Homo sapiens: one gene and its partner. The protein of the gene in region 2 interacts with the protein of the main gene of each other region in a biochemical or structural test. Each region holds a gene or a part of one and is shown on either strand. Other genes may lie near its edges. The genes, in order: UNC5B and TREM2.

Region 1 (3,807 bases), on a different chromosome or scaffold from region 2:
ATTGTCTTTCCCTTTATTTCCCTTGACAGATAAGAAAACTCTAAGCGACCCCAACAGCCACCGTAAGTCCCATTTCATGGCTGTCCTCTTTCCTCTGGGGGATCCCTGGTTCTCTTTGGCTGGCTTTTCCCGGGATCAGGGTGCAGGGCAGGGAGAGCTGAAGGTGCCTACCCACCCCCCACGGGATCATCTACACCTGACACTGCATGTGTCTGCATCTCCATCACCGGCAGACAGGCAAACCCTTGGCTGACAGAAAAGAAAGGCCTTAGGGCACCCTACTGAGCCTCCTCTCATAAGAGGGGAAACTGAGTCACAGAGAGAGGAAGGGACTTGGCCAGAGACACAGGCAAGAAATAGTAGAGCCAAGATTTGAACCCAAATATTTTTATAGCCAAAGCTGTTGTTCTTAACCATATGCCCTTGGCCCTCCTCTCTGGGCCAAGGCCGGGACATCACCACTCCAGTCCCCCCTCATGCCCCTTGCTGTACCTCTCTGCCCCAGCAGCTGGGCCAAGCCTCCCAAATTGTCTCTGTTGCCCGCTGCCCTGCGTCAGCTCTGGAGGGCTCACCCTCCAGCCCCAGAGGCTGCGCCACCACTGCAATCATATCAGAGCAGCAAAGCCACTTGAGCAGGTTGGCCCATGGTAATTAAACCACAATTTCCAGTTAGTTCTGGAATCATAAAATCAGTGAGGCCCTCGGCCGAGCTCACTGGGGGTCGGGCTGGGGATGATTCAAGTGTAAGTCACCAGGCAAGTGGCCCCAGTGTCAGTGAAGGCATTAGGAGGCAGAGCCAAGCTGGGGGAACCATTTCTCTGCTGAACCAGGAGCCCAGCCCTGAGGGGTCCTCTGGGGAGCCCAAGAGTGAGGGCTGCTGAGGAGAGATACAGGGGGACAGAAGTCGGAAGTGGGCAGACATCCGGGGCTGGGAGCCATGCCCTGCCTTGCTGAAAGCCTTAGGCTGACGCCAAGTGCAGGGTGTGGAGGACTCCAGGCAGAGGAAGCAGGGCTACTTCTCTGAGGGCCCCCCAGGGAGGAAGTGCGTGGACAGGTGCTTCCTGGAGCTCCCAAAGGAAGCAAGGGGAAGAGCAGCCATCTTGGCCGCCATTTTTGCTCTCCCTGAACTGCCCAGTGTGAAAGCCGTTCAAACTTATACTTAGCTTAATTAAAATTAAATAAATTTTTAAATTCAGTTCCTCAGCGGTACTGGCTACATTTGAGTTGTTCAGGAGCCATATGTGACTAGTGGCTGCATACGGGACAGTGCAGCCATAGGATTTTCTACCACTGTAGAAAGCTCCACCAGACAACCCTACTTCAGACCCTGCCACTTTGACCTTGAGGCTTCCCGCCTGGCCATGTTTGCCTGGGGGAGGAAAGTGTAGCCGTGGGTTGCCTCCCTGGGCCCATCCTTCTTCCCACATGCTCACCTCTTCTCCACCGCATTGTTGTGCATCTCATTCCACTTCTTCAGCTCCCCGTCCCTCCACTTCCCACCCTCAGAGCATGGAATGGAAGAAGAGTTCAGAACAGCTACTTACAAAGATAACAGAGCCAGAAGACCTTATCTACATACAAAGATAACAGAGCCAGGACCTTTGGTCCTCTGGAAATTGCTACAGACTCAGAGGTTTCAGCCCCAGCACTCACAGGGCAAATTATGTAGCCCCAGTGACTCTGAGCCACAGACCCTGTCTCATCAGCAGCAAGCAATGAATTAACACATGGCATGAACATGTTTGTTCTTTTGTTTCTCATGCCACAACTAGGAGGGCAGTAAGGCAGGGACTTCGAGCCCATTTTACCGATAGAGAGGTTCAAGGCTAGCCCGAGGTTGCCAGCCTGTGTAGGCAGGGCTCAGACTGGAACTCAGCACCGGGCCGGTTGGCCCTGGGCCCTGCCCTTTCCAGGGACCCAGGGCCTCCCTGATTGCCCCAGGGCCTGGTCTCTGCTGCCCCTTATGTGGTCCTCCTGTCCCCGCAGTGCTGGAGGCCTCAGGGGATGCGGCGCTGTATGCGGGGCTCGTGGTGGCCATCTTCGTGGTCGTGGCAATCCTCATGGCGGTGGGGGTGGTGGTGTACCGCCGCAACTGCCGTGACTTCGACACAGACATCACTGACTCATCTGCTGCCCTGACTGGTGGTTTCCACCCCGTCAACTTTAAGACGGCAAGGCCCAGTAAGAACCCGAGGATGTCTGGGGTGGTTGGCAGAGGCAGGATACCCAGAGGGCTCTGGTGGTACCCAGACCAGAGCCAGGCTCCTGACTCCCTCCCAGGGTTTTTCCAGAGTTTGCTCTAGAGATAACTATGTGGATGGGTATGGATTAGAGAACTACCGAGAAGGAAGGGAGTGACCCAGGCTGCGGGATTCCCAAAGCTTCCTGCAGCTGGCAGCAATTGGGCCTTTCACAGCTGGACATTTGGGTGGGATTTTGCAGTGGGAGCTGGGCCAGTGAGCTGAGGCACAGCTGGGTCTGACTATAGCCCCTACTCCTGCAGGCAACCCGCAGCTCCTACACCCCTCTGTGCCTCCTGACCTGACAGCCAGCGCCGGCATCTACCGCGGACCCGTGTATGCCCTGCAGGACTCCACCGACAAAATCCCCATGACCAACTCTCCTCTGCTGGACCCCTTACCCAGCCTTAAGGTCAAGGTCTACAGCTCCAGCACCACGGGCTCTGGGCCAGGCCTGGCAGATGGGGCTGACCTGCTGGGGGTCTTGCCGCCTGGCACATACCCTAGCGATTTCGCCCGGGACACCCACTTCCTGCACCTGCGCAGCGCCAGCCTCGGTTCCCAGCAGCTCTTGGGCCTGCCCCGAGACCCAGGGAGCAGCGTCAGCGGCACCTTTGGCTGCCTGGGTGGGAGGCTCAGCATCCCCGGCACAGGTGAGCCCCTGCCCTGCTTGTGCGTCAGCCTGGCCTTAGCACCTCCTCTGTGGACTGCCCCAACACCCATCCAGCAGAAGATAGGGCTGCCCTAATCCCATCTCACAGATGGGGAAAGGGAGGCCTGAAGGCAGGAAGTGAGTATAAAATAGAGAGGTCTGACTAGAAAAGCTAGGCTTCAAGCCTGCCTATGCCCTCACTAGGGCAGAGGAACCTTGGGCCAGCCATCTTCTAAGCTTCAGTGTCTCTGTTGTGTGAGAGAGAATATTCCAACGTAGTTCAGCAGACCTACAAAGCACTGTCCTGGAACTAGCAGCAGAGGGACAGGGGCGCCTGTTTTAGTTTGCAAAGCCAGCAATTAACAGCTTCCCAGCATCATATACTAAGCTAGGAGTAGAGCTGGCACTTGGACCTCCAGACACCATAGCAATGTCAGAGACCCCTGTCTTCCTAGACAAGCCAGCACTGGTCAGTGGCCTGGCCTCTGCTTGCATCCAGTCCCCAGACCCTGTCTCCCACCCCTGGCTGGGGACTACCTGGAGCTCAGGAGATATCTTTCTCTCCCAGCCCCAAGCTGGGGCCAACTTCCCAAACACTTGTTCTCCTAAGCTCCTGGACTCCCTGCTGACTTCCCTCTCCCCCTAGGGGTCAGCTTGCTGGTGCCCAATGGAGCCATTCCCCAGGGCAAGTTCTACGAGATGTATCTACTCATCAACAAGGCAGAAAGTACCCTGTGAGTAGAGCCCCAGCCGCTGCTCCTTTTTCTTCCTCCCATCCCTTGCTGCCTGCCCACACGTGGCTCCCCTTCTAAGCCTGATGCCAAGACCAAACAGTCCTCCAAGGAAAGTATTAATCTTACTGTGTCCATATTGAAAACTTGCAGAACCAACACCGTAAATTGTAAAACTCAAAGG
Region 2 (4,266 bases):
GCTATGGGCTACTTTTATTTTTCTGTCTCCCTCTTGGGAGGTGGCTAAGGGAGTTCACTGCCACCGGCCATCCTTAGGAAAGTGGTGGAGGTGGGGTTTGTGTCTATGACTGGCAGTCTCCCCTGGCCTCCCCAAGTCAGGCAAATACTACTCCTGACCTCATTTCCATGGTAAAGAGCCATACTGGGAGAAGGGGTTGGAAAGGAGGAGAGTCAGAAAAGGCCTTTGTAGCCCCAGATTTGTTCTCCTTTGGGGACACAGTTGTGTTCTGCAGACTCAAGCAGAAGGCCTTCCTGGAGGGTGGTCCCTGCGCAGAGCTCGGGGGTGGAAAGGAGACACCCTGGCCCACCTACTCACACCTGGAATGACGATCCCAAGACAGTTCAGTAGCAGGAGGCTTGGAGCACATGTCACACCCTGCCCCCAACGCCCCCCGCCAAATAAAAACTCACAGGAACCCTATGGGGTCAGCAGGACAGACACCACCCTCTCCATTTACAGATGAGAGAATGGAGGCCCAGAGAAGTGAAGCACATTGCCCAGCACAAGCAGTGTTCCTTTCTAGGGGTGATTTTCTGCACCAGGTTGGTGCTTCACTTACGTTGATAGGGCCATTGGTTGGTTGGTGAGGGAATAAATTAATCTCCTCCTCCTTAAGGACCTCCTATCATGTTCACATGCTAACTGGATGGAGATGGATAAAGCTGTTTGGGCAAGGAGGGCCAAGGCCAGGCTAGTTCACAGAGTGCCTTAATGCAAAGTAGAGAAAGGTGCCCTTCTTGCAGGTGATGCAGCTCTGCACCAGGGAACACAGTCTGGCAAAAGGAGTCCGGGCTGGATTTTGGCCCCCTTGTATAGTGAGCAACCTGCACAACTATCCTTGGTAGCCCTGAGTAGGGAGATGAGACCATACGATGGGTTTTCCCAGGATCCCTGAGAGCCCAGTGGGTGGTTCTGCACACAGACGCCCAAAACATGAGGCCTGGAACAGGGGCAGGCCAGAGAGGCAGCCACTGCCCACTCACCTGCCAGCACCTCCACCAGGACCTTCCTGAGGGTGTCAGCCTCACTGCCATGGAGGCTCTGGCACTGGTAGAGACCCGCATCATGGGGTTGTAGATTCCGCAGCGTAATGGTGAGAGTGCCACCCAGGGTATCGTCTGTGATGGCTGTGCTCCCATTCCACCTCCTCAGGAAGGACAGCAGCCACAAGTTGTGCGTGCTGACCACACGCTGGCATGGGCCCTTCTCTCCCAGCTGGCGGCACCAGGCCTTGCGCCTCCCCCAGTGCTTCATGGAGTCATAGGGGCAAGACACCTGCAGGGACTGGCCCGCCACGCCCTGGAACACTGTGGTGTTGTGGGCTCCGGACAGCTCTGGGGAGGAGACATTCATTCACTCCTTTGTTTACCAAATACGCTTTGAACACTTGCTCTGTGCAGTGACCTAAACAGACAAAAATCCTGCCCTGAAGGAGCTTAGGTTCTTATACAAGTTGGGAGCGGATGGCACAGCATGTGTTTGTGGGAAATTGGGAACCAGGAAACCTGGGACCTGGGTTTGGTTTTCTCACTGTTGCTCTTGCTGGGCCTCCTTGGAGAAGTAACTGACCTTCTCTGGGTCTATTCTGGAGGCACTTGGTCTTAAAACCCCCTCCAGTTCTGTTCTGCACATCTCTTTGCCATCATTTGGGACTGGGACCTCTCCTCTCGGCCTGGGGCTGGCTCTCCCTGCCCCGCCACTCTTGCTTGCTCTGCAGCCGCCCACATTGGTACCGACTTTCCTGACCTTTAACTTCCAGCTTCCCTATTTCTGTGGCTTTGTTCCCCTTTCAGGAAGGACCCGTCTCGGAGATATTTTGGGGGAGACATGAGGCTGCTATTTTGGGAACCCTCCTTAGGGCGGGGGAGATGGGCTTAGAGCACCAGCCTGTTGCTGGGGCAGCCCCCAGAGCCCCCTGCTTTGACTTCTCTCTTGGTCCTCCCTTGCCTGCCATCTTCAACCATTACTGTGACAGAGGCTTGAAAGATAGGATTGGGAAGTTGGTGGCTTGCCTTTTGGAACTAGAGAGACCAGATGGGCCGTGGCCCTCTCCCATCTGACCACCTCCCATCCATGCCTCAGAACCCCGCCTTCCCCCTGACCACCATCTAAGAAGCTGCAGGAACAAGACTCCATTTGGCACCGTCTCTCCTCTTGCCCAGGTTTGTCCAGTGCTCTGGGGGAGCAAAAGGTGCGCTTTCCTCAGCGGGAAGAAGCAATTGTGTACAAAAATTTGGTGTGTCAATTCCCCTCAACTCAGCAACGGAAATCTCTACGCTCCTCACCTCCCATCAAGAGCTGAGGACAAGGGGACCTTCAGAGCAGGGGAGAGAGTGCCCCAAAGATGCAGATGAACATCCTCAGGTTCTTTCCTCCTTTATAACTGTAGGGGCTCATAATTAGTGGCTTATAATTTCAGAGGCTATTACCAGTGCCAGTGCCCCCCAAAGCTTCCCCCAACTGCCAGCTAGTGCCTGGGATGCCACTGTTAGCACTCCTTCCCTTCCAATGCAACCAGAGTCCACCAGCCCCTTACATGTCCACATGCAGAAAGAGTCTGAGGGTAGGTTTTGATACTGGGGAGGGAAGGAGGGTGTGAAGAATATGGGCAGGGTGGGGAGGAGAGGAGTGCAGAACAGGGCACTCAGGCATGCGAGGACTGCCACCGCCTTCATAATTCACCCCAGGGCCCACCACCCGCGCCCCAACCACATGCTCAAAGTGAGGGAGAGAAGGCATCACAGGGCACGGAGGGGATCCTACCTGTGACAAAGAGTAAGATGAGCAGCCGGAGAGGCTCCATGCCACCCTTCCCCAGCCAAGGGCAGAAGCAGAGTGCCTTGTGCAAGATCTCGTCTTTCCCTTGAACTGCAGAAAAGAGAGGATCAGGCATGTCAGGCGCTGCCCACAGGAACTGGGCTCCTGGGGATTAAGCAATAGTCAGGACTGGGGTCTGGAGGCGGTGCAGGGTGGGGACAGAGGGGAGGAGGAGTCGGCCACTGCAGCCCTGGCAGAAGGAGGCTGAGTCTCCCAGACCTCTGAGAAGCCAGCCCACCCTCCTGCTGGTGCCAGCCAGGGTGGCCCCCAGATGGTTGGGGCTGGTAAGGCCCTGCACTGCTCAGTTTCCTTGCAGAGCCTAGCCCAGGGATCACTATCCTCACAGCTGTATTCAGACCCTCCACCAGCTGCAATGCCCGCCATCTTCTGGTTTCAGCCTTGCAAGAGTTGGAGAACAGCTGTGCCTTTAGAGGCCAGGACCCTCATCCAGCACCTCTTAGTTCATCCCCCCAGGGCTGTCATTCCTGTAGTGTGGCAGCAGTTAAGTACACAGCTCTGGAGCCAGACTTCCTGACTTTCTGGGTGTGTAACCACACATCCAAAACCTACCTGTGTCTGTTCCCTGATCTATACAGTGGGAATAATGATAGTGCAAAGGGTTATCAGGAGCACCATATGGGTTCCTACAGGTAAAGTGCTTTCCAGTAGGGCCTGACACACAGCATTCAACAAATACTAACTATTACCATTATCCTAGTTAGAAGGGAAAAGGGAAATGGGCTGTCCATAAGACAGAAAATTTTCTCTCCCACCTGGAATTTTCTGCCCAAGTTTAGCCTTCTTGGAACTGTTGGGTGTCTCCTGTGCACACATGCTCACACTGGTGTTTATTTTGTGCACACACATGCTTGAACTCCTGATCATCCTATCCTACAGGACAGGACAGGATATTTCTCAGAGTTCTGGGGGTAGGGGTGTGTTTTTCTACACGTACAGGTTCCCATGGTGATCCAAGCACAGGGACCCACGTGTGCAAAGGCACAAAAGTGTGAAATGGCCCAGTGAGTCGGGGATTGGATGGAGGAGGCTTGAGTCAATTCTAGGAGTGGGAAATGGAGTTGTGCTGGGAGTGGCAGAAGAGGCTGGAGAAGCCTGCAGGAGCCTGTAGATTATCAGGGTCTACTTTAGTTTCCTGCAAACACTCACTTATTTGTTCTTTTATTCATTTATTTACTCATATTTACTGTGCATCTAACTTACGGACAGGGAATGTGCTTGGAGATGGGGAATTCATAGTGAGGAGAAGACAGGCCTCCACTCAAAGGGCCAACTGCCCGGCCTTGCCCCAAGGGCCTGGGGGCTGAAGTCTGAGGCTGCCTGAAGATCACTCTGTAGGTACTCTTCTAGGGTCTTTTTCTAGAAGTCAGGTTTATTGGCCCATAATTT

Evidence for each region.
Region 1: the proteins of TREM2 (region 2) and UNC5B form a complex in vitro, tested with the Homo sapiens proteins (one large-scale study listed by BioGRID).

Annotation. Positions count from the first base shown.
Region 1 is NC_000010.11:71,288,929-71,292,735, forward strand, and holds part of UNC5B (netrin receptor UNC5B isoform 1 precursor), read left to right. Parts: intron 1-29; coding exon 30-62; intron 63-1,986; coding exon 1,987-2,181; intron 2,182-2,503; coding exon 2,504-2,893; intron 2,894-3,538; coding exon 3,539-3,626; intron 3,627-3,807. UniProt on the Homo sapiens protein: Receptor for netrin required for axon guidance. Mediates axon repulsion of neuronal growth cones in the developing nervous system upon ligand binding.
Region 2 is NC_000006.12:41,160,238-41,164,503, forward strand, and holds the start of TREM2 (triggering receptor expressed on myeloid cells 2 isoform 1 precursor), read right to left. Parts: upstream 2,880-4,266; 5' UTR 2,846-2,879; coding exon 2,806-2,845; intron 1,377-2,805; coding exon 1,026-1,376; intron 1-1,025.